Linked DNA regions of Homo sapiens. The protein of the gene in region 1 interacts with the protein of each later gene in a pairwise test. Each region holds a gene or a part of one and is shown on either strand. Other genes may lie near its edges. The genes, in order: NAB2, PSMA1, CWF19L2, PHF1, KIF9, CCHCR1 and NDOR1.

Region 1 (4,003 bases):
CAACAGCCCTCCCAGCCGTGGGCGGGAGTGCAATGCGAACCAGATGGGGCTAGGAGAAACCAAAGGGGGAGACGGTGGTGGGTTGCAGAGGCGGGGGCTAAGCTCCTTCAAGGCGCTCCTCCTTCCAGCTCCGCCGCAGGAAGTCACGTCGTAGGCTCCCGACCTCTTACTCATCTTCCACTAGACTCTCGGGCGAGGTCCCTAATAGACGGCCCCAGGAAGGGTATCGTCTTTGTCACACAAAATTCCCAGGCAGGGCCTCATCCTCAGCAAACAGAGGACAAGTGGAGGAATCCCTGCCTGACCTACGCGCTGACAAAAGCCGACGCGTCTAATCAACACGCGCACCTAAGTGGTGGCGTGCAGCATAACCCTCCCATTCCTGTTTCCCAAACTTTCCAGGCTAGCATGGAGGCCTGGGTTTCTGAGAGCGACCCCCTCAGATTATTCCATTGGGGCTGAGGAGGGGCGCGGGGATATCTAGGAGATCCCTGCAGAGCCCCACGCTCTCAGGCCCGCCTTAAGTGCACACTATACGGGAGTCAGATGCACGCACAGGAGAAGCCGCACAGCCCAGCCTTCGCTAACTTTTCCCGGCTCACTGCTAACATTCACACGTCCAGCACCACAAGGCCTGAGTATGGGCAACGGGCGTCCCCGTAGTTGTTTAGGCGCGTGTGCACGTCCGTGCGCTTCTGTGTCTTTGTGTACTTGTGCGTGGTTGTGAAACTCCTCTCTCAGCTCGGAGGGGTGGGGGAGAGAAGGAATGTCGCCGGCGGGGCGCTCACGTGGGTACGTGGGCGCCAAGAGGGCCGGCTGTGCATCCGGCGTGGGCGGCACAGAACGACCTCGCCCCGCCCGCTGGGTCCCCAAGCCCGCCCTGCACAGCCGGGCCTCGGTCACCTCGGTCCCCAATTCGGCGCCCCGGCTCTGAATCCCCGCCCCCGCCTCCTGCTCCACACCCCCTCCCCCCCCGTCTCCGCCTCTCCCAGTCTCTAAGCCGCGGCGTCTCCGCGGCCGAGAGGCCCCAGCGCCCGCCTCCCCGGCCCCCGCCCCCACCCCCGCCCCCGGCTCTGCCCACGCCCTCCGCCCGCCAGCCCGGCAGCCAGCGCAGCTCCGGGCCTCGCTCCCTGTGCGTCCTGCGGGGGCGGAGGCGCGGAGAGGCGGCAAGCGCAGCCGGGGAGGGTGGGGGGGCAGAGGCACAGACAGAGGCGCGGAGGCTCGGAGAGAGAAGACGTGGAGGGAGGGACAGAGCCTGGACAGCGGTGGACACGGCATCGTGCGCGGGGAAGAGGGCAGCACGCAGCAGGCGCCGAGCGCCGGGCACCGAGAAGGGCAGCCCGGGTGATCTCCGGCCGTCCATGCACAGAGCGCCTTCCCCCACAGCCGAGCAGCCGCCGGGCGGAGGGGACAGCGCCCGCCGGACCCTGCAGCCCAGACTCAAGTTAGTGGGCAAAGGGAGGCAGCGGGGAGTGGAGATGGGTGGAGCTGGACTTGGGAATGGGGTCCAGAGGGCGGAGGTCGAGGGGAGGACGTGGGGAAGCAGGACGGGGGTGGGGGGTGGAGACTGATGGAAAAGGGGGTGCGTCTTCGAATTAGGGGGCCCTGGGAGCAGGCAAGCATCTGATGAAGCTGGATATGAAAGAGTAGTACCCAAATCTCCATTCCTGGTTTACTCTGTGGGCTCCATCTGGCCTAAGAGCCCCCTGCAAAGAATGTGGGAGCCTCCAAGCACCAGGGGATGCCCTGGAGCTCGAGCTGGCATCAGTGCGGAAGGTGGGGGGACGCTCAGTTGCCTCAGTCCCTCGTTGGCACGGAGCGCGCGGGCCCCCGGTGCCTTTGAGTTAAAGGAGCATCAGCGGGGGAAAGGGGGGGTGACGAGGGAGGCAGGGAGGCCTTAGGCGTTCCTTCCCATATCTGTCCCTTTATTCACAGAGCGGGGAGGGGAGTTTCAGTGTGCAGCCCCTTCATCAAGAGGCCTTGAGCCGCTCCCCCACTCCACTTGAAGATGCGGGTGGAAAATATGGGAGAGGAGAGTAGGCGGGAGCCCCTGGGCGGTTTTCGCCTACAGACGCTACCACTGTGGGAGTGTGTGTGGGCGGAACGGCCCCGGAGCAGAACAATTGCGCCCCTCCCCCTGCCACGGCCCCTGAGCTGAAGGAAAAGGCTGACCGAGGAAGTGGGGAGTGTCACTGCTAGGAGAGGGGCCACTGAGGAGCACTGGGCAGCCTGGAAGGGTGGAGAGGTTCTGAGGGGAGAGAGGAAGCGTGCGTTAAGAATGCTTAACCAGGCCGGGCGGGCCCGGTGGCTCAGGCCTGTAATCCCAGCACTTTGGGAGGCTGAGGCGGGTGGATCACGAGGTCAGGAATTCGAGCCCAGCCTGACCAACATGGTGAAACCCCGTTTCTACTAAAAATACAAAAATTAGCCGGGCATGGTGGCGGGCGCCTGTAATCTCAGCTACTCAGGAGGCTGAGGCAGGAGAATCGCTTGAACCCGGGAGGCGGAGGTTGCAGTGACAGCGCCACTGCACTCCAGCCTGGGTGACAGAGCGAGACTCCGTCTCAAATAAATAAATAAATAAATAAATAAATAAATGCTTAACCCCTGGGAAAAGCTGAGCGGAGAAGAGTAAGGCACCACCTGGCTCACTGAGTGGGAAAGCCAGGGAAGGTGCCACACCCTCCCTTTTAGCCACCTGGGGCTGTGGCCCCTTCACAGGGAATGAAGCTGGCCAGCAGCGTCCACTGTGGGGGAGACTGGGCTCCTACATTCACTTTAGTATGGGTGACTTCACTTCAGTGTTGAGACTGCTGAGTGTTTAGAGGGGAAGGTGAGGATTGTGTTTTGGGGGAGAGGGAGGTCCAGCCATCCCAGGTCGGTGCTGGTCAGCCTCAGCGCTCAAGTTCTTCTTGCCCCAGACCAAAAAGATAAAAGCTGAAGATAAGGTTGTAAGACGCTTCGACTCCTACAGACACAGGCCACTGACTTTTGGGGCTTCGGGCCAGTCTAGGACGGCACTGGCTTGTCCATGCCTCTGAGCAGTGCCTGATTCTGAGAGTCTGTACTCAGACCTGGGCACTGGGCAGGATAGCATCCAAATGAGGGAGGGGAAGAAAAGCAGGCAGGAAAGAGGGAACAATTGTTAGTGTGGGTTGGTACCCAGTAGGGGGACTTGCACCGACTGCCTCTCTCTTGTGCCCCTCCTTCTCAGGCCCAGTGCCCGAGCCATGGCACTGCCTCGGACGCTGGGGGAGCTGCAGCTGTACCGGGTCCTGCAGCGCGCCAACCTCCTTTCCTACTATGAGACCTTCATCCAGCAGGGAGGGGACGACGTGCAGCAGCTGTGTGAGGCGGGTGAGGAGGAGTTTCTGGAGATCATGGCACTTGTGGGCATGGCCACCAAGCCCCTCCATGTCCGGCGCCTGCAGAAGGCACTGAGAGAGTGGGCCACCAATCCAGGGCTCTTCAGTCAACCAGTGCCTGCTGTTCCCGTCTCCAGCATCCCGCTCTTCAAGATCTCTGAGACTGCGGGTACCCGGAAAGGGAGCATGAGCAATGGGCATGGCAGCCCAGGGGAAAAGGCAGGCAGTGCCCGCAGTTTTAGCCCCAAGAGCCCCCTTGAACTTGGAGAGAAGCTATCACCACTGCCTGGGGGACCTGGGGCAGGGGACCCCCGGATCTGGCCAGGCCGGAGCACTCCAGAGTCGGACGTTGGGGCAGGAGGAGAAGAGGAGGCTGGCTCGCCCCCCTTCTCCCCCCCTGCAGGGGGAGGAGTCCCTGAGGGGACTGGGGCTGGGGGGCTGGCAGCAGGTGGGACTGGGGGTGGTCCAGACCGACTGGAGCCAGAGATGGTACGCATGGTGGTGGAAAGTGTGGAGAGGATCTTCCGGAGCTTCCCAAGGGGGGATGCTGGGGAGGTCACATCCCTGCTAAAGCTGAATAAGAAGCTGGCACGGAGCGTTGGGCACATCTTTGAGATGGATGATAATGACAGCCAGAA
Region 2 (3,005 bases), on another chromosome or scaffold:
GGTCTCCATCTGTTGACCTCGTGATTCACCCGCCTCGGCCTCCCAAAGTGCTGGGATTACAGGCATGAGCCACCGCACCCGGCCCCCTTTTTGTGTTTATGGAGATCACTGCCCTTTCAATATTTAACTTTACTCAGTTCTTAATTTTCCTGTTGCCATTTGAATTATGGGCCCATTTCAATATTTAAGACAAAATGGAAAATTTACAGACACAGTTGTGGTAAGAACAGCAGCTTACAATAGAACTAAAGCCTCTTGTGTTATGATTATATACCTGTGCCTTTCTCTGTGGTCTTTCTTCAAGACCTTCCAGGAATGGAGACACATCATCATCATCATAGATTGTAAACTCCAAGTCTTTACCAACAATTCCAATGGAAACATTCTGAAGGGTAAAATATGGTAAAAGTAAAATAAGAGAATTTGGATGAAAAAATACATACGATAAAATATTGGGTGAAAAAAGCAGAATAAGAATTTATATAGCATTTGAATAAAACCTTAAAAACCACTTATGTGTAGGAGAAAAAAGAAGGAAACTAGTGGACCCTTGTCATTTGCAGATTTAATATTAATACTAACTTTTGATTATCATGAGTAACTCCAAAGATCTATGTTATCTAGAAACATTTTTTTAAAAAGATAATGCAGGCTATAAAGTCTTCACATTGATATTAAACAATAATTATCCAATCACCATAACAAAATGGCTTTATAAAACTGACTAATCTCACTTTATTAATGATCATTAACTTCAAGTAGGCCTTAGTGGTTCCTGGATCCCACTATACCCATTTCTACATCATTCATGCTCCCCTTCTTTTAGACACTTCTAACATTCTCCAAGCTCTTTGAAGCTGAAAACCTTGTTCCTATATTACTGCGAAAACAGAAGCAATTAGAAGAGAACTTTCACAAGTTCCCACTGTATCCACTCTTTCCTGTACCTATGTCCCTAGATTCTCTCCTTTCCCATTAAAACTTCCTAAGGCCAACCCTTCCACCTATGTACTATTAAAGGACATTGTTCTAACAATTTTCTCATTATTTTTCCTCATAAATGCTTCCCTAAATTTACTTGGATTACTCTCACAATCATGCAGCAAATGTGATGTAATTTCTTCCATCTTAAAAAACAAAACAATTTATTTCTCTCCTCTTCCAGTCACCACTCCATCTCAAAAAAAAAAAAAAAACCCAGATTGTAGGGGTAAATAGATAGTGGGGCTATGGGTAGAAATAGTTTTAAGGCTATTCAGGTAATTCATGTGAGAGATGATAGCGATTGGAGCAGAGTGACAGAGTGACCGTCAACAGAAATATCCTCCAAAAAGCTATCTGCAATTCCTCGTCTCCCATTCTCTCCTGATTCCACTATCAGGTTTTTGCCTTATTATTCCATTAAGCCTGTTTTGTCAGGTCCTCAGTGACAACTTCATTGCCCCTCCTCCTTGAAAGTTTATTCGTTTGCCTCCAAAGATGCCTCATTTTCCAAGTTTTCCTCCTACTTCTTTGACCACCTCTCTCAGTCTTTTTTGCCAACACCTAACTCATCTCCCAGTTGCTAAAGGTTAGTGTTCTTGGTCCAGTCCTCACAATGCTTGTCTAACTATTCAATTCCTTTAGGAATCTCTTCCAGTCCAGACTCTAAATGCCATTTCTATATAAAGACTTCAAAAATTTGAAATGTAGGTTGGACCACTCTCCATGGAACTCCACGTGTTGCTTATAACTGCTTACTCTGTACCGTCAATTAGACAAAAAGGCATTTCAAATTTTACATGTCCGCAACTGACTGCCTGACCTTCCTCCCCAACGCCTACTCTAAAACCTGTTCCTCCCACTATCTTCTTCACCTCAGTAAATCATAAATCTTTCATTCCAATTAATTAGGCCCAAAACCTTGGAGACATTCCCCCCTCACACCCTATAACAAATCTATTAGCAAACTTTTTTGGCTGTAATTTCAAAAGATATCCAAAATTGAACCACTACTCTTCATCTTTAACTCTGTCACTCTGCTGCAATCACTATCATCTCTCACATAATTACCTGAATAGCCTTAAAACTATTTCTACCCATAGCCCCACTATCTATCTACCCCTACAATCTGTTTTTTTTTTTTTTGAGATGGAGTTTTGCTTTGTCACCCAGGCTGGAGTGCATGCACCGCCACGCCCGGCTGATTTTTGTATTTTTAATAGAGACAGGGTTTCATCGTGTTGGCCAGGCTGGTCTCGAACTCCTGATCTCAAGTGATCCACTCACCTCAGCCTCCCAAAGTGTTGGGATTACAGGCGTGAGCCACTGCGGCTGGCCCACAAACCGGTTGTTTTTTTTTTTTTTTTTTTGAGACGGAGTCTCGCTCTGTCGCCCAGGCTGGACAGGCTGGAGTGCAGTGGCGCAATCTCAGCTCACTGCAAGCTCCACCTCCCAGGTTCACGCCATTCTCCTGCCTCAGCCTCCCGAGTAGCTGGGACTACAGGCGCCTGCCACCAAGCCCGGCTAATTTTTTGTATTTTTAGTAGAGATGGGGTTTCACCGTGTTAGCCAGGATAGTCTTGATCTCCTGACCTCGTGATCCACCTGCCTTGGTCTCCCAAAGTGCTGGGATTACAGGCGTGAGCCACCGCGCCCAGCCTCAATCTGTCGTTAAAATGCCAAACAGAGTGACTGTTTTAAAACCTAAACCAAATCATGGTATTCCTCTGCTCAAACTCTTAACAGCCCACCCAGAGTAAAATGCAGAGTAACCACAATGGCTTATGGGACCTCCATTACCTCTCTGATTTCTTCCCTTTTCCTCTTCCTCTCGATGATTGACCTCAACACTACTGGCCTCCTTGCCTTAAATACTAGGGCCTTTGCATTTGTATTTCCTAGAATAATTTTGCTCTAGATCTGCATAGCTCATACTCACTTACCTCCTTTATATCTTTTCCTCAAATTTCATTTTCTTGGTGAGAATATCCTCAACCACCTATTTTAAATTACACCTACCTACA
Region 3 (3,500 bases), on another chromosome or scaffold:
AAATAAAGCCAAAATTTTCCCAGTATTTTTCTGGTAAGAAGTCTCAGTTATATGATTTATTGATAGTGCATATATTATAGAAGGTGTGTTAAGATTTCCTGAAAGATTTTATTTATTTAGACATATTCTTGGTCTTATTTCATCAGAGATTGAAAGTTTTTTAGAATGTGGTTTATTTTTTTTCTCTCAGAATACATCCTTTTAAATTAAGATGAAATTAAATTATTTTCTTGCCTGTTCAAAATGATTGTAGGAACACTCTGTGAAGAAAAAGAAGAAAAAAGACAAGCATTCAAAAAAAGCAAAGAAAGAAAAGAAAAAAAAGAGCAAGAAACAGAAATATGAAAAAAACAATGAGTCATCTGATAGCTCATCAGTAAGTATGTACTAAAATTAATCAAAGCAGCTATTTGAGAACATTTTATTTGAATGTGTAACTTATGGGAAGTTAAAATACAAGAAAACGTAAAAAATATATTACTAGTTATGATATGAAAATATCTGGGATACATCTACTTAGAGATGTCCAGAAAATATTGGAAATGTTGATCTTGAATTTCAGAGAAAGGCTAAGAGGATAGGGATATGATTTGGGAATTATTGCTAAGCACAGCACTGGATCTTGCCCAAGGCCTGCTGTAACAATTACCTGGCTACAGCTGGTGTTCACTCAAGGCCCTGGGGCTCTGCAATCAGCAGGTGATGAAGCCAGCCAGGCCTGCGTCTTTCCCTTCAGGGTGGCAAGTTCCCCCAGGCCTGAGGGTGGGTCCAGAGGTGCCATCAGGGACCCAGGTACTGGCGTCAAAAACCTTAGACTTGTACCTGGTGTTCTATTGAACTGTGGCTGAGCTGGCATTCAACCTATGAATGGCAGTCCTTCCCACTCTTCCCTTTTCACAGGCAGAGGGGCCTCACCCTGTAGCCACCACCATAGACCCACAGGTAGTACTGGCAGGCTACCACTGATGTTCCCTTAAGGCCCAAGAACTCTTCAGTCAGCTGCCCGGCCTGGGACTCACCCTTCAGGGCAGTGGGCACCCCCTGGGCCAGGGCAGATCCAGAAATGCTATCCAAGAGCCAAGGCGTGGGGCTGGAGACCCCAAGATCCCTCTTGGTGTTCTACCACCCTGTGGCTGAGCTGGTACCTAAGGCGCAAGACAGAGCCCCCTTTACTTTTCTCAAGCAGAAGGAGGCTCTCCCCATAGCCACCACAGCTGGGAATGTGCTGAGTCTCACCTGAATCCAGCAAGTCTCAGATACACAGTGAAGGCCACAGTGTAGTACCCGATTATTGGTGCTGGTTATTCAGGGCCTAAGGGCTCTTTAGTGGTTACCAGCTATGGCTGAGCTGGTATTCAAGATGCAAGATGGAGTCCTGTATTTACTCTTCTCTCTCCTCTCCTCAAGCAGAAGGACAGGGTCTCTTTTGGAGCTGCACATTGTGCAGCCTTGGGTTGGGGGAGAGGTGGTGTAAGCACTCCCTTAGCTGCACCAGTTGCCCCCCAACCACCTGTCCATTGGCTCTGAGGCAAGTTTAGCACTAGGAGTCACCAAGGAATTCCACATCCTTGCTAGTACTTGGTATTGTCAGTCTTAGTAATTTTTAGCTATTCTACTGTGTAATGTCTCGTGTGATATTTCTCTGAAGAACAAGGATGTAGAGCATCATTTTAAGTCCCCATAGGGCATTCCATGTCTTTGTGAAATCTGATTTATTAAATATTTTCTTTTTTGTTTTTCATCATTTTTTCTTAGTGCTTCTGGTATCCTAATTTTTGCGCACCTCAAGATTGTGATTTCTCCTATGTTTATGTTATTATTAAATTTTTTTGTTTTTTGTTTGTTTTTAGAGATGGAGCCTCACTATGTTGCACAGACTGGAGTGCAGTGGCACCATCATGGCTCATTGCAGCCTCAAACTCCTGGGCTCAAGCAATCCTGCTGCCTTAGCAGCCCAATTAGCTATGACTACAGATGTAGTACAGAAAAGTTGTTTTTGTAGACATGGAGTCTTACTATATTGTCGAGGCTGGTCTCGAACTCCTGGGCTCTAGTGATCTCCTGCCTCAGCCTTCCAAAGTGCTGGGATTACGGGTGTGAGCCACCATGCTTGGCCTCCTATTTTTTTTCCCTAGAAGTTTTATAGCTTTGGCTTTTTTGCTTATTTATAATCCATTAATAATTTTTATTTATGTTGTGTAGTGTCAGTTTATTTTTTTCCCACGTGGATTTCCAGTTTTTCTAGCATCATTTGTTGAAAAGGCTGAATTTTCCCTATTGGAAGGAATTTAGGGAGATAGATATGTTAAAATATTCTTTCAATCCATTATGCACTTGGTACATCTCTCTATCCATTTATGTCTTTGATTTTTCTCACAATGTTCTGAAATTTTTAGTGTAGAGATCTTACATGTCGTTTGTTATTTTTTTTCCATTTTGTTTTCTGGAAGTGCTATCGTGAGTGGAATTTTAAATTAAATGTGTTTACAGCTAGTATGTAATTATAGAAGTGACTTGAAACATTAGGATCAGAAAAAAAAGAAAAAAGTGAAAAAAAACCTGCTTTTGATATATTCACCTTGCCTCTTATCACCATGTTAAAATTACTAATACTAGTGTTAGTAGCTTTTTTAGTAGATTTCTTAGGATTTCTAGGTAAATGGTATGTCATGTGTGAAAAAGACTTTTACTTTTTTCTTTTCAGTCTCTGTGCCTGTTTTATTTGTTAATTGTTGTTGCCTTATTTCAGTAGCTAGGACTTAAAAATAGTGTTGAATGGAAGTGGTGAGAGTGGACATGATTGCCTTTTTCCTTATCTTAGGTGCAAAGCATTCAGGTTTTTACATTTAAGCATGATGTCTGCTGTGGGACTTTCATGTATGCCTTTTCAGATTAAGGAAATGACATTTTATTTCTAGTTTTCTGAGAGTTTGTATCTTGAATGAGTATTGAATTTGGTAAGTGCTTTTTTTGCATCTATAAGTGTTAAAATTTGCCAGTGAAACGGTTTGGTCCTGGAGTTTCTTTGTGGAATGGGTTTAACGACAGAGTTAATTCCTTTAATAGTTGTGTTAAATACTTTCTGTTTATTCTTGAGTTAGTTTTAGTAATTTCGGTTTTTCTGGGAATTTATTCCATAGAAATTGTCAAATTTATTGTCATAAAGTTATTTGTAATATTTCCTTTGTTCTTTTAATGTTTACGGAATCCATAGTGATACCCCTCTTTCATCCCTGATTTTGGTAATTTCTATTTTCTGTTTGTTTCCTCTGTCAGTCTGTCTTGAGGCTTATCAGTTTTATTAATCTTTCTTTATTGCCTTTTAGTTTCCTTGAATTTTCTCTGGTTGTGTGTTTTCTATTTCATTGATTTAAACTATATTTATTCTTTGCGAATACTTTGTGTTTAATTTGCTCTTCTTTTTCTAACTTTCTAAGATGAATGTATCGCCACTGATTTGAAATCTTTTCTAACGTGTATTTATTTTATAAAATTTTCTC
Region 4 (4,099 bases), on another chromosome or scaffold:
GTGTGTGTGTGTGTGTGTGTGTGTGTGTGTGTGTGTGTGTCCCTATGTCTATGTATCGGGTGAGGGGTGGGAGGGTTGCTGGAGGGTGCTTTATTGGGTGGAGGGCACCATGTCCCAGGGCTATCAAATAAAGAATAGTTTGGTTTTTTTTTTAAATAAAGGTTTTATTAGCATTTGCCCAAGAAGGCAGATACTTTCATATCTGTAAAAGTGGGAGCTGTGATCTGTACCCTCTGCCAAACGTTTACGTGGGAGGCGGGAGCGGGGGCTGAGGGCTTCGTCTTTTCTCCCCTCTGCTATCACCGGTTCTGGACCTTGGCCTGGATCATCTTCCCCTCTGCTAATACCCCCTACCCCGTCCGTCACATCAGGGAGGTGTGCCCTCTAGCTATCCACGCCCCCTCCTTGGTCACTAGTTATAGGTAACTTTCACCCTTCCGCCGGCCACCCCAGCCCCAGGGAAGAACGTTCCTTTGGTGGGTGTCGGCAAATGGGGACCGGACCCCAGAGTCCAGAGGCGGGGCTAGCGCGCGCTCCCAAACTGTTGGCTCTTTCCTCCCGTCCCGCCCTTTCCCTGCCTTTCCGTTCGAACGGCTGGGGCTCTGCCCGCTCGCTGCCCATTGGCTGGCTCTCGGTGGCGTCACCGCCTTGGGTCCTCGCGCCCTTCGTCTGCGCCAGCCCTGGAAGCACGGGGCGGGACGTCCACGGGAAGCGGCGCGCACGCCCGCCGACTCCCTCGCGCCAACCGCCGACGGCCGCCGCCCGGTGAAGGAGGGGCTCAGTCCTCCCAGGTGCCGCGCGCAGGAGGGGACACGCGTGCGCAAAAGGGCGGTGGGTGGGGCGCGACTCGTCACGGGGAGGGCGGGGCGCGCGAGGGAGGAGGGCGTGGTGGGGGCATCGAGAAGGGTGAATGGAGGGCGGGGCTGTGAACTGGGGCCGGGGGGCGGGACTTGGAGTGACCATGGGGGGTGGGGCAGCTAACGGATGTGGCATGGGGCGGGGGACCAGGCCGGAGGCGGGCTGCCGGGAGGGGGGATTCCCTCGTGCCCCAAGGGCGAATCTCAGGTCGGAGGAAGGGGCTGAGGGGATTCCCTCTCCCACCGGGTCCGACTCTTCGCTCCCCAAGCCGCGGAGGGCCAGCCTCTTCTTCGGCGCCCTCCAGGCCTGTTGGAGGTGAGGGAGGTGGGGTGAGGTGGTGCCCGCCCCCCCCTCCGGCTCCTCCTTTCCCCCAGTCCTCCCCTCCCACCACCCTCCCCCCCAACCGGTCCGTCCCTCCCCTCCCTCCCTCCCCCCCGCCGCCTCCTCCTCCTGCCGCTGCCGCTGCTTTGGCTGCTGCGTCATACGCCCCAGAGCCGCCGGGACGGAGGGGCTGGGCCTGGGGACCCCCCGGCCTCCGCCTGCACGCCCCCCCACGCCCGGACGTGCCCTCTCCGCGCGGGGGACTCGCCTAGGTCTCCTACGTCTGCCCCTGCCCGGCTCCCGGCGGCCCCAGCTGTCACCGGTAAGGAGGCGGCAGGAGGCGCTGGTGGGGGGCAGGGAGCCGGGGGTCGGCGCGGGGCGCGGGCGGGAGAGCCTCGCCGCCTTGGCCTCGGGTCCGGGCTGGGCCGACACAAGTCCCTTCTCGGACTTGCCGTCCTGGGGAGTAGAGACCGGGACTGGGACACGCCCCCCTCCCGGGGCACTCAGAGAAGTTGTCTAACCCGGGGGCAGGGAGCCCCGAATTTGAGGGTGACCTGACATAACCTGGCACCAGGATGATTGTTCTTAATGAGACGCGCAGGCCTGGGGAGACAGCCGTTTCTGCTCTGGAAAACATCTCCAGAAAAGGTCCCAAAACACGTCTCTGGGCAACAGGACACCCTAATTATGATACCTCTAAACTGAGTAGCCTTTGCTTCTACAACCATAATTTCTCCTAAAATTTCAAGGCCAGTATATAATATCCCAGGAGAGCTCTGGAAGCTGGGAAACTAGCAACTAGGTTTGGGGTCGGGGGGAGGGCTGTTAGTTACCGAGAGGAGAGCCAGTCACTAGAGTTGGAAGAGGACTCAAAAAGCTGGTGATGGGTGCCCAGTGGTTTCCTATCAAGGTGTCTCAGGGATTTGGAGATGGGGGCACAGATACTTCATTCTTGATGGCAAAATAGGCAAAGAAAATGGGGAGGCTGGCCGGGCCCGGTGGCTCACGCCTGTAATCCCAGCACTTTGGGAAGCTGAGGTGGGTGGATCATGAGGTCAGGAGTTCGAGACCAGTTTGGCCAACATGGCCAACACCTCATCTCTACTAAAAATACAAAAATTAGCCAGGCATGGTGGCATGCGCCTGTAATCCCACCTACTTGGGAGACTGAGGCAGGAGAATTGCCTGAACCCGGGAGGTGGAGGTTGCAGTGAGCCAAGATTGTGCCACTGCACTCTGGCCTGGGCGACAGAGCAAAACTCCATCTCAGGAAAAAAAAAAAAAAAAGAAAAAGAAAATGGGGAAGGTTTCTCAGCATTCATAACCTTCTCCTCCCCATTTCTTTTCTGGCTAGGCCCCCCCAGGATGCAATGGCGCAGCCCCCCCGGCTGAGCCGCTCTGGTGCCTCCTCACTTTGGGACCCAGCTTCTCCTGCTCCCACCTCTGGCCCCAGGCCTCGGCTTTGGGAGGGTCAAGATGTGCTGGCCAGATGGACTGATGGGCTGCTATACTTGGGTACCATCAAAAAGGTAAGACCTTCTACCTCTGACCTTCTTCCTAGTTCCCTTATCTAATTCTGGTTCCCATTTCATCCTGTTTGCTCACCCATTCCAGGTGGACAGTGCTAGGGAGGTGTGTCTGGTCCAGTTTGAGGATGATTCGCAGTTTCTGGTTCTATGGAAAGACATTAGCCCTGGTAAGACTCTAGAGACCTGAGATTGCACATCCCATGGAAAACAAACCTGGCCTAGAGGGGCAGAAAGAGACTTAAAGGCAGGCCCTGTGACACTGTGTTCTCTCACAGCTGCCCTCCCTGGAGAGGAACTCCTCTGTTGTGTCTGTCGCTCTGAGACTGTGGTCCCTGGGAACCGGCTGGTCAGCTGTGAGAAGTGTCGCCATGGTGAGAGGGCAGGTCACCTGAATGGTCCAGCTTGCTCTTCCCTCCAGGATGGTCTCTATATCACCTGTCCTGGCCTTAGTCCCCAAGCCACTGCTCTGGCCAGGCTGCTTAGCCTTATCTTAGTCCTCATCCGCTTTCAGCCCAGGGAGAAGCAGCCATGGAAAGGGGTGGTATAACCTTTGCAGGCAGAAGATGGTTTAAATGCATCCTTTTCTAACCATATGACCTCGGACAAGTCCCTTAACCTCTAGGAGCCTCAGTTCCCTGACTTGTAAAATAAGGATAATGCACCCCCTCATCAAGACCATGGTCAGGGATTAAATGAGATGGGTAAAGACTATTCCTGTCCCAATACCAAGCACACACAGGTATGCAATAAGTGGTCTACTATTATCACTGCAGCTTATCACCAGGACTGCCATGTTCCCAGGGCTCCAGCCCCTGGAGAGGGAGAGGGCACATCCTGGGTATGCCGCCAGTGTGTCTTTGCGATCGCCACCAAGGTAAAGGCACTTCCCTGTTACCCTTCCTGTGGGAGCCTCCCATCCACAGCCTCTCCCAAGCCTTTTCCTCTCCCCACCCCTCTGAAGCCACCCACCTGTCCTGTCTCTGCAGAGGGGAGGTGCCCTGAAGAAGGGCCCCTATGCCCGGGCCATGCTGGGTATGAAGCTTTCTCTGCCATATGGACTGAAGGGGCTGGACTGGGATGCTGGACATCTGAGCAACCGACAGCAGAGTTACTGTTACTGTGGTGGCCCTGGGGAGTGAGTAATGAGAGGGGAGCAGACTGTGGAATGAATGATGTGGTGGTGGATCCCAGGAAATGAAGGAAAAAGAACAGGATGAGGGTAGCACTCAGGGGGATAGGAGGTAAGTTTAGGGTTTGGGACAGTTATGGGGAAGGGGGTTTCTGGAGGCCAGAAGTCCTGTGTTCCCCCTCAGGTGGAACCTGAAAATGCTGCAGTGCCGGAGCTGCCTGCAGTGGTTCCATGAGGCCTGCACCCAGTGTCTGAGCAAGCC
Region 5 (3,302 bases), on another chromosome or scaffold:
CCAAAGTGCTGGGATTAGAGGCATGAGCCACTGTGCCCAGCCTGGGTAACTTCTTTTTTTTTCCCCCACAAGATGGAGTCTTCCTCTGTCACCTAGGCTGGAGTGCAATGGTGTGATCTTGGCTCACTGCAACCTCTGCCTCCCAGGTTTAAGCGATTCTCCTTCCTCGGCCTCCTGAGTAGCTGGGATTATAGGCATGCGCCACCACTACCGGCTAATTTTGTATTTTTAGTAGAGATGGGATTTTTCCTGTTGGTCAGGCTGGTCTCGAACTCCCGACCTCGGGTGATCCACCCGCCTCGACCTCCCAAAGTGCTGGGATTACAGGCATGAGCCATCGTGCCTGGCATTCTTTTTCTTTTTAATTAAAAACAATTTTTTAAAAATAGAGACTGGGTCTCCCTATGTTGCTCAGGCTGGTCTTCAGTTCCTAGACTCAAGGGATCCTCCTGCCTGGGCCTTCCAAAGTGCTGGGATTACAGGCATGAGCCACTGCACCCAGCCTTTTTTTTTTTTTTTTGACAAGGTCTTGCTCTGTCACCCAAGCTGGAGGGAGTGCAGTGACACGATCATAGCTCACTGCAGTCTTGATATCCTGGGCTCAAGCAATCATCTCACCTCAGCTTCCCAAAGTGCTGGGATCATGGGCGTGAGCCCCTGTGCCCAGATAGTTATTTTAAATAAATTCTTATTTTATGCTTTTTAAAAGGCTTTATTGAGACAGAATTTGCATACCATACAATTCACCCATTTAAAATGTGCAACTCGCCAGTCACGGTGGCTCACGCCTGTAATCCCAGCACTTTGGGAGACTGAGGTGGGTGGATCACTTAAGGTGAGGAGTTCAGGACCAGCCTGGCTAACATGGTAAAACCCTGTCTTTACTAAAAACACAAAAACTAGCCGGGGATGGTGGTGCACACGTGTAATCACAGCTACTCAGGAGGCTGAGGCAGGAGAATCGCTTGAACCCGGGAGGCAGAGGTTGTAGTGAGCCGAGATTGCGCCACTGTACTCCGGCCTGGGTGACAGAGCGAGACTCCATCTCAAAAAAAAAAAAAATTCTAAATCATTAAGCAGAGGAGTCCTGTATTTCTACAGGTCAAAATTCTATTCTCTCATTCCCCAATCTCTATAATTCTCTGTGTTGGCCATTTTTAATGTTTAAGATATGCCCATGCACAGACTTTTTATGCAAATGTTATACTCGAACCATTCCATGTTCTTTCAATTCTATGTTTTAGTTATTTAAATATATACTTTTATATAGGAAACATATAGATCAGATTTTTCATGGTCAAAATCTGTTTCCTGTTTTACTGAGTCTCATGGTGGCTTGACAGTGGCGTGTGTATGTGTGTGTGTTTGTGTGTGTATTGAAATCGTGACCTTGTGTTTGATTGAACTTAAGCTCAAGGAGACCTGAACACATAAATAGAAATTATTTTCCCCCTGAAAAGGTTTGCACTTGCTTTCTGCAGTTACCCATGGGGCATTACCAACCCAGGACCATTTTAACCCTCTTCAAGAATTCCAGTTTAATATGGGAGCTTCAATTCAGACTCCTACTTTGTGGGGAACCTAAGATTCCATGTTCCAAGCTAGTTTTAGCGTTTGCTGGCTTACAGCCCACTGTTTCTGTTTCAGCCTACAGTTTTCACCTGCTTTCTAAGAGCCTAGTGATGCATTAAAAAGGTATAATTTGTGAACATCTGATTGATTGCAGTGGCAAAGAGAGGGCCCTTCTGAATACCTGGCCCCTAACTCCTCTGGAGATAGAACCCTCTTCTTTTCTTTCTGAACCTATTCCCTATCAGAAACTCCCAAGAATGCCCTTGAAACCTATATGCCTCCTTTCAAATATGCCTGCCAGACTGTTTTAAAATAGTTTTACACACTTTCTTTAGGATAAAAGAATGAAAGAGTTTGAATGGATGTTATTTCTCAGAGAATTGGGGCTACTCAGAAGGAATCCTTGTCCACAACCCATGATGTTTGCAGGAGGAATGATAGGGTGAATGTGAGTGGCCTGGTCTGAGTCCCTGCTATGTCTGTCCCTCCTAATAAGTTCCTGTTTTCTCTTCCCTCTGTGTCCAGCATAATTACTTGAAAACCATGATGGGCCTCCAGCAGGCACATAGAAAATAGAACCTCATCGCCAGTACCTTAAAGGACAAGACCAGCAACTCCCACCTACTGTAGTGGAGCTGCTCAACCACCTGCCCAGAGCTGCAGCCCCCTCTACTCCAATGCTGGGACCCAGCACAGAGAACACATTTGGCCTGCATGTTGGGAGGAGCATCCTCCAAGGACAACCTTGCTCATCTCCACAGAGCACTTTGGGTTTTAATTCACTGTCTTATATGCAGGGACAGGATAAAATAACTTTCTAGTTTGGACTTTCAGTGCTCATCTGAGAACTTTGTCTTATTTCCTGTCTGAAAGGACATATTCTCTATGTATGTGTGAGGTCAGAACTGAGTCTCAAGTAGGAAGGCAGAAAAGTAGCTCAGCCAGGCTCCTCCTGGCAGGCCTTTGTCACACTGGTCAGCCCCTTTCCTGGATAGACATCCTAGGGTGGGGGTGGTGAGCTCGGTCTGAGGAGCTCTGCTTCTCACAGCTCCCTCAGACCCTAAGTTCTCTCAAGACATCTTTTCTGTGTTTCTGAGCCAGTGAAGAAGACAGGAGGAGGCCCTCCTTCATTTGGCAACCAGGGGAGGATAAGGTCTAGCCACAGAGACCAGAAAGGGATGAGGCAGAGCTGGCTCCATGTACCAGGGAATAAATGAGCAGCTTCTGGGAGACATGTCCTCTGCATGTTTCCAGAACACCACGGCCTTCCCTACGCAGCATGCACGGCCACCAGGCACCAGGGTGCCTCCCCTCCCCGCTTTCTCTCTCCGTGTAGGCTGCACTGAGCAGAAGTGAAAGTGAACGATTTACCCTGAATAGGAACTGGGATCACTGTCAAGGCTGAGCAGGGAAGAGAGAAGATATCACTCTCTATCAAGTTACCAGGCTGCAGCTTGGGCCCTTGGTGGTGGCACCAAAGGGAAAGAGTTCATTACTTTGCTCAGAGAACAAACTCAGGCCCTCTGGGGCCTTCCAGGCTGACTGATACGCCCCTGGGTTGGTAAACCAAGTCTCCACTGAGCGAAAAGTTTCAGTGCTTCCTTGGAATTGTATCTCACCCCCTCTTCTGTTCTTATGGGTCAAGGCCTTGGCCTGACACTCTGTGGGTGCTCCCCCGTCTGACACCCTCATCAGGGCCTTGAGGTTTCTGTTATTCTTCCAACAGTGGG
Region 6 (2,932 bases), on another chromosome or scaffold:
TAGGGACGGGGTTTCACCATGTTGGCCAGGCTGGTCTTGAACTCCTGACCTCAGGTGATCCACCCACCTCAGCCTCCCAAAGTGCTGGAATTATAGGTGTGAGCCACTGCACCTGGCCTAGTCTATTTATTTAAAGCTATATACTTACTTGCTTATTATATACTTAACTTGCTTACTATTCCATCTAAAATGTAAGCCAGTTAGTTTCCTTCTAAATCAATTGCCAGCCTTTGTCTCTCCTACCAACTTCCTAGTTGTTTCATTACCTACAATTGTTGTATGACCTTCAGAAAAACCTCTAAGAAAACAGCAAAGCTTCTTTGTGCTGGTGATGACTTCCCCTCAGCCTTAGACACTGAGGTACCCAAGGCAGGTAGTTCTTTTTTTTTTTTTTTTTTTTTTTGAGACAGAGTCTCGCACTGTCACCCAGGCTGGAGTGCAATGGCACGATCTCAGCTCACTGCAACCTCTGCCTCCCGGGTTCACACGATTTTCCTGCCTCAGCCTCCTGAGTAGCTGGGATTACAGGTGCACACCACCACACCCGGCTACTTTTTTGTATTTTTAGTAGAGACAGGGTTTCACTGTGTTGGCCAGGCTGGTCTCAAACTTCTGACCTCGTGATCCGCCCGCCTCGGCCTCCCAAAGTGCTGGGATTACAGGCTTGAGCCACCGTGCCTGGCCGGCAGGTAGTTCTTAGCACAGTCTCTGGCTTGTAAATGTTTATTGTTATCGTGAGGCTCTTCTTGATGGGTTAATTTAGATAAAGATAATTTTTGGTTTAGCGAAATTAAGATGCAGGATGAGTCCTTGCCCATCACTTCCTTCTCTTGGATTTGTACCTTAGGGACTAATTTAGCTTTAAAAATTATGAAAAATTTCAAACTTGCACGGAATTAAACTAGTTATAATGACCTACCACCCAGGTTCAATCCATCGCGGGTGCCCCCTACCTCCAGGAGAACAGAAAGATGCACTGTGGACAGGGTTTGACTTTGGTACCAGGCGATCACAGAAATGGTCTGTGTAATGATGCATTTGCCGAAAGTCCTCCAGGCTTAAAGCAGTCCAAACTCTGATTGTTGCTGGGTTTATTAGATTGTCTCTAGGTAATTGGAGACTTTAATAAGGGCTGTGGTAGGTGTTGGAAGCATCTACTGGAACAATTTCCAGATCAAAGTGAACTTTGCTGTGCTGCTGGGGATGCAGCTGCAAGCCTTCATCATCATGTGTTTTTCTGTGGGTGCAGACCTGGACTCTCCTGAGGAAACCCCAGCCCGGCCCCAGACACTCCTTGGCCTCCTCCTGGGGCCTGTTTAAGCTGCTCAGTTTTCATGAGCCAGGTTGGTCCTACTTCTGGCACAGCCAGCTGGTAAAGCATGTGGACCTGCCCGTCATTGGTGCTAGATCGACACTCCTGGGCTTGGAGAGGATAACTTTGTTTTCTTTTGTTTTTTTGAGATGGAGTCTCGCTCTGTCACCCAGTCTTGAGGGCAGGGGTGCGATCTTGGCTCACTGGAACCTCCACCTCCTAGGTTCAAGTGATTCTCGTGCCTCAGCTTCTGGAGTAGCTGGGATTACAGGCATGAGCCACCATGCCCGGCTAATTTTTGTGTTTTTAAGTAGAGAGAGTTTCACCATGTTGGCCAGGCTAGTCTCCAATTCCTGACTTCAGGTGATCCGCCCGCCTCGGCCTCCCAAAGTGCTGGGATTACAGGCAGGAGCCACTGCCCCTGATCAGAGAGGATAACTTTACTCTTTGATACACGATAGTGAGCAAAACACAGTTGTGAGAAATAAGCTTAACAGGTTGCTTAAAAAGATAGTCATTTAATGCATTCTTGGGGCAAGGGTCCTTTAGATAATTGACGGAAGCTGTGCGTTCTGTACTTGTATAATGGGACAGGATTAGAGGGAGTTGTCTATACAAGGCACAGCAAGTCCTTTGGGAATGAGGGGAGGCATGGAGGATCAGTGACTTGTGCCCTCTCCAGCTCTCAGATCTGGCTCGAGACCACCATGGCTAAGGTGGAAGGGGCTGCCGCCCAGCTTCCCAGCCTCAACAACCGACTCAGCTATGCTGTCCGCAAGGTCCACACCATTCGGGGTGCGTAGGACAACTGCGAGCCACGTCCTGCCCCCACCCCACCAGCTCGGACTTTCTTCTTCCTGACCCAGCTCTCTCTGATCCCACATCCATTCACCTTCCTCCTTTCACCAGTCCTTGCATCTCTTTTTCCCTTACTCCCTGTCCCCACTTTCTCCCATGCAAACTTCATCTCTTTTTCTCCCTGCTTTTTCCCCTCCAGGCCTGATTGCTCGAAAGCTTGCCCTTGCTCAGCTGCGCCAGGAGAGGTGAAGTTTGGGCACTTTGAGGTGGATGGGGCTTTAGGGCATTGGCTGCTGGGACCCCCAAAACCATGAGGACTGAGGTGGGATGGGGGCTTTGGGATCAGGCAGCTGGGTGATTTCTTCTGACTCTTTCTCTTCCCCGTCCCAGCTGTCCCCTACCACCACCGGTCACAGACGTGAGCCTTGAGTTGCAGCAGTTGCGGGAAGAACGGAACCGCCTGGATGCAGAACTGCAGCTGAGTGCCCGCCTCATCCAGCAGGAGGTGGGCCGGGCTCGGGAGCAAGGTACACCTGGTTGCCAGGGGGTGGAGAGGATGAGGAAAAACCCGGTGTCTAGGGTGCTGGGAGAGGCCTGACCCAGCACCCCCTCCTTTTAGGGGAGGCAGAGCGGCAGCAGCTGAGCAAGGTGGCCCAGCAGCTGGAGCAGGAGCTGCAGCAGACCCAGGAGTCCCTGGCTAGCTTGGGGCTGCAGCTGGAGGTAGCACGCCAGGGCCAGCAGGAGAGCACAGAGGAGGCTGCCAGTCTGCGGCAGGAGCTGACCCAGCAGCAGGAACTCTACGGGCAAGGTGTCGAGAGGGAA
Region 7 (3,500 bases), on another chromosome or scaffold:
GGCAGAGGAGGGTGATGTCCCAGGAAGGAAGCTCCACGCAGGCCTGTAGAGCACAGCAGGGTCTGGCTCCTGTGGGCAGGGTGGGACCTGGTCTCCCTAGACGCTGGACCAGCCCTGCCTCCTCCCGGTGCCCATCATCCTGCAGGCTGGACCTGGGCCCTGCCTTTTGGTCAGATAGGTCCAGTTGTATTCTGCCCCCATCCTACCCACCTGCCTGTTCCCCTGAGACCCTCCCCTCACCCCCTGCTGTGGGGCTAGCCTAGAGGTCGAGGACTCTGACTCAGAGTTTCCTCCGGCTGTAGAACTTCTGGAGGTTTATATTCCGGAAGAACCTGCCCTCCACTGCCCTCTGTCAGATGGACTTTGCCGTCCTGGGCCTCGGGGACTCCTCATACGCCAAGTGAGTAGGGGATGGGACAGTGGGCGGACGGAACAGTTCTGGGGGTCGAGCAACAGGTGTGCTGGCAGAGGACCGAGACCAGCTTCCAGGGTCGGCCCCTGCGCGCCTCAGGGCCCTCGCAGTGGTACTGGCTTCTCCACAACGCTCCCTGGTGGGCACCCCAGGCTTCACGCTGCGGGGAGGGCACAGAGGGGAGCAGGCAGGGTGGCAAAGGGCTGGGCTCCAGCCACGCTGACGTCACACAGGCCTACCTGGCGCCGGTCCCCACTTTTACAAAAAGGCGTGCTGTGAAGTGTTGACGACTTTGAGCCTGGAGGAGGACCCCGTATGCTCCTGCCACCCCAGAGGCCACCTCTGCCTTTTCTCCTGGGCATTTTCACAGTGCTCCTCTGCACCCTAAGCAAGGAGTGGCATGTTCAGTGTGCAAATGGCATCTTTAGACCCCACAACGGTGAAAACCCCGACTGTCCACGTAGGGCCCAGGTCCGCTGAGCACCGAGCATCAAAAGCCGTTTGCATAGCCAGGTGTCAGTCATTTCAGATGAAAAAGAACGGGAAGATCGGAGACAGCTCCCCCCGGTTCTGCCGGGAGGTTTTGTTCCGTGCGTGACGTAGGTCCGTGCATGACGTTGTTTCCTGCGTGACGTTGTTCTGTGTGGGACACAGTGTTCGTTCAAGAGAGGGAGGGAGGCCGCTGCCGACAGCGTTCCCAGGGAGGAGCGTGACCCAGAGCCAGTCATGCCTCGGAACCAGAGTGAGAAGAGAAACTGACCCCCGGGAAGATGCCTGGCTCTCTCCCCAGCACAGAGTTTCTCAGCTGAGGAGTGACCCACATCTTGGCTGGGGGCCTGGAGGCCTCAGCTGCCTCAAGTCCCTGCCCAGGGATGAGGGCCCATCAGTGGGACGAGGCCGCCTGCTCCCACCCACACAGGCTCATTCTCTGCGAGCAGAGGACCTGCTGCTTGGCACCCTGGCAGCTGCCCTGGTCTCGGCAGCCCCTGGCGTGTGGAGGCCCTGCCCCCTCCTAGGGTGCGGCCAGCGTGGAGTGTGTTTTCCACCCGAGGGAGGCCCTCCCCAGGCTCCACTCTTCGCCCGGGCTCCACTCTCCCGGGTTCCACTCTGCCTGGGCACCACTCTCCGCCCGGGCTCCAGCCCAGGACCAGCCTCACTGTCTCCACAGGTTCAACTTCGTGGCCAAGAAGCTGCACCGACGGCTACTGCAGCTTGGGGGCAGCGCCCTCCTGCCCGTGTGCCTGGGCGATGACCAGCATGAGCTGGGGTGAGTCTGCGGGCGTGGTACCCGCCTCCACAGTCTGGTCTGGCCACACGCAGGGTCCGCTCAGGCCAGCGCACGTGCTCCCTCCCAGGCCCGACGCTGCTGTGGACCCCTGGCTGCGAGACTTGTGGGACAGGGTTCTGGGGCTGTACCCGCCGCCTCCGGGCCTCACTGAGATCCCTCCCGGAGTCCCGTGAGTGTGGGCCCCGGGTCACCCACAGGCGCAGCAGACCCAACCTGGCCTGGGGACCTCGCCCTGGGTCCCTCCCGTGTGGGTGGGCGGCCCCTGGGGAGTGGGTCCTGGTCTGACCAGCGTGCCCTCCCACAGCCTGCCCTCCAAGTTCACCCTGCTGTTCCTCCAAGAGGCACCCAGCACGGGCTCTGAGGGGCAGCGGGTAGCTCACCCCGGCTCTCAGGAGCCCCCGTCAGAGTCGAAGCCCTTCCTAGCACCCATGATCTCCAACCAGAGAGTCACCGGCCCCTCCCACTTCCAGGACGTTCGGCTGATTGAGTTTGACATCTTGGGCTCTGGCATCAGGTGGGGACTGCTGGGGACCGAGGAGGGCAAGGTGAGGTGGGCCGTGGGTCTGGGGTTCGGAGGAGGCTGGGCCGGGCTGCAGGGGATGACTTCTATCCGGGGCCCCGACATCCTCCCTGCGGCGTCCCCACAGCCCTGGTGGCTTCTTCCACACAGCTTTGCTGCTGGTGATGTGGTGCTGATTCAGCCCTCCAACTCGGCTGCCCATGTCCAGCGGTTCTGCCAGGTGCTGGGCCTGGACCCTGACCAGCTCTTCATGCTGCAGCCGCGGGAGCCAGGTGAGCCCAGCCTCGGCCACCCTGACTCTCTGCCCTCTCCCGTGCCCTGGGCCCCCACCCCAAGGGCTCCGCCGCAGCCCACGGAGGCCTCCCACTCACCCTGCAGATGTCTCCTCCCCCACGAGGCTGCCCCAGCCCTGCTCCATGCGGCACCTCGTGTCCCACTACCTGGACATCGCCAGCGTGCCTCGCCGCTCCTTCTTCGAACTCCTGGCCTGTCTATCCCTCCATGAGCTGGAGCGGGAGAAGCTGCTGGAGTTCAGTTCTGCCCAAGGCCAGGAGGAGCTCTTTGAATACTGCAACCGGCCCCGCAGGACCATCCTGGAGGTGAGATGGGAGGGCGGCAGGCCCAGCCCCTGAGCTACAGCCACGCTGCAGCCACCCTGAGACTCTCTTTGCCTAGGTGCTCTGTGACTTCCCGCACACAGCTGCCGCCATCCCTCCCGACTACCTGTTGGACCTCATCCCCGTTATCCGGCCGAGGGCCTTCTCCATCGCCTCCTCGCTGCTGGTGAGGGGCCTGGTGGTTGGAGCCCAGGACCGGCCCTGGGAAAGCTGGGACCGGGGCTGTGGGGTTTTGTAAGCAGGGGCTGCCCTCTGACCAGGTGACGTTCCCCCAGTCGGACTGCCTCTGCGGGAGGTAGGTGGGGCCCACGGCCCAGGCACAGGTGAGGGCAGCCTTGTTCCACCACCCCCACCCCGCCGTCCTCCCCAGACTCACCCCTCACGGCTGCAGATCCTCGTGGCTGTAGTGCAGTTCCAGACTCGCCTCAAGGAGCCCCGCCGGGGCCTCTGCTCCTCCTGGCTGGCATCCCTGGACCCTGGGCAAGGTGACCCCTGCTCCCAGGGTGGGGGCCGTGGGCCCATATCCCCTTCTCTCCCATGCTCATGCAAATGCTGGGCTAGGGCCCCAGCAGACTCAGCACAGGTCTTTGATCCTCTTCATGCCACCTCCTTCCTGCAATAGGACCTGTCCGGGTGCCCCTCTGGGTGCGGCCTGGGAGTCTG

What was found.
Region 2: the proteins of NAB2 (region 1) and PSMA1 interact in binary tests that used the Homo sapiens proteins (3 or more experiments, as listed by UniProt).
Region 3: the proteins of NAB2 (region 1) and CWF19L2 interact in binary tests that used the Homo sapiens proteins (3 or more experiments, as listed by UniProt).
Region 4: the proteins of NAB2 (region 1) and PHF1 interact in binary tests that used the Homo sapiens proteins (3 or more experiments, as listed by UniProt).
Region 5: the proteins of NAB2 (region 1) and KIF9 interact in binary tests that used the Homo sapiens proteins (3 or more experiments, as listed by UniProt).
Region 6: the proteins of NAB2 (region 1) and CCHCR1 interact in binary tests that used the Homo sapiens proteins (3 or more experiments, as listed by UniProt).
Region 7: the proteins of NAB2 (region 1) and NDOR1 interact in binary tests that used the Homo sapiens proteins (3 or more experiments, as listed by UniProt).

Annotation. Positions count from the first base shown.
Region 1 is NC_000012.12:57,087,911-57,091,913, forward strand, and holds the start of NAB2 (NGFI-A-binding protein 2), read left to right. Parts: upstream 1-1,203; 5' UTR 1,204-1,361; coding exon 1,362-1,444; intron 1,445-3,214; coding exon 3,215-4,003. Other genes in the region: NEMP1 (nuclear envelope integral membrane protein 1), read right to left, coding at 1-174. UniProt on the Homo sapiens protein: Acts as a transcriptional repressor for zinc finger transcription factors EGR1 and EGR2. Isoform 2 lacks repression ability.
Region 2 is NC_000011.10:14,507,382-14,510,386, forward strand, and holds part of PSMA1 (proteasome subunit alpha type-1), read right to left. Parts: intron 386-3,005; coding exon 275-385; intron 1-274. UniProt on the Homo sapiens protein: Component of the 20S core proteasome complex involved in the proteolytic degradation of most intracellular proteins. This complex plays numerous essential roles within the cell by associating with different regulatory particles.
Region 3 is NC_000011.10:107,451,326-107,454,825, reverse strand, and holds part of CWF19L2 (CWF19-like protein 2), read left to right. Parts: intron 1-253; coding exon 254-376; intron 377-3,500.
Region 4 is NC_000006.12:33,409,715-33,413,813, forward strand, and holds the start of PHF1 (PHD finger protein 1), read left to right. Parts: upstream 1-1,299; 5' UTR 1,300-1,501; intron 1,502-2,533; coding exon of another isoform or gene 2,534-2,549; coding exon 2,550-2,708; intron 2,709-2,793; coding exon 2,794-2,875; intron 2,876-2,983; coding exon 2,984-3,079; intron 3,080-3,481; coding exon 3,482-3,582; intron 3,583-3,694; coding exon 3,695-3,843; intron 3,844-4,021; coding exon 4,022-4,099. UniProt on the Homo sapiens protein: Polycomb group (PcG) that specifically binds histone H3 trimethylated at 'Lys-36' (H3K36me3) and recruits the PRC2 complex. Involved in DNA damage response and is recruited at double-strand breaks (DSBs).
Region 5 is NC_000003.12:47,227,498-47,230,799, reverse strand, and holds the end of KIF9 (kinesin-like protein KIF9), read left to right. Parts: intron 1-2,097; coding exon 2,098-2,148; 3' UTR 2,149-2,802; downstream 2,803-3,302. UniProt on the Homo sapiens protein: Essential for normal male fertility and for progressive motility of spermatozoa.
Region 6 is NC_000006.12:31,144,871-31,147,802, reverse strand, and holds part of CCHCR1 (coiled-coil alpha-helical rod protein 1), read left to right. Parts: intron 1-1,994; coding exon 1,995-2,107; intron 2,108-2,309; coding exon 2,310-2,355; intron 2,356-2,500; coding exon 2,501-2,637; intron 2,638-2,729; coding exon 2,730-2,918; intron 2,919-2,932. UniProt on the Homo sapiens protein: May be a regulator of keratinocyte proliferation or differentiation.
Region 7 is NC_000009.12:137,212,200-137,215,699, forward strand, and holds part of NDOR1 (NADPH-dependent diflavin oxidoreductase 1), read left to right. Parts: intron 1-302; coding exon 303-400; intron 401-1,580; coding exon 1,581-1,679; intron 1,680-1,767; coding exon 1,768-1,869; intron 1,870-2,004; coding exon 2,005-2,214; intron 2,215-2,370; coding exon 2,371-2,492; intron 2,493-2,598; coding exon 2,599-2,819; intron 2,820-2,895; coding exon 2,896-3,003; intron 3,004-3,207; coding exon 3,208-3,322; intron 3,323-3,459; coding exon 3,460-3,500. UniProt on the Homo sapiens protein: NADPH-dependent reductase which is a central component of the cytosolic iron-sulfur (Fe-S) protein assembly (CIA) machinery.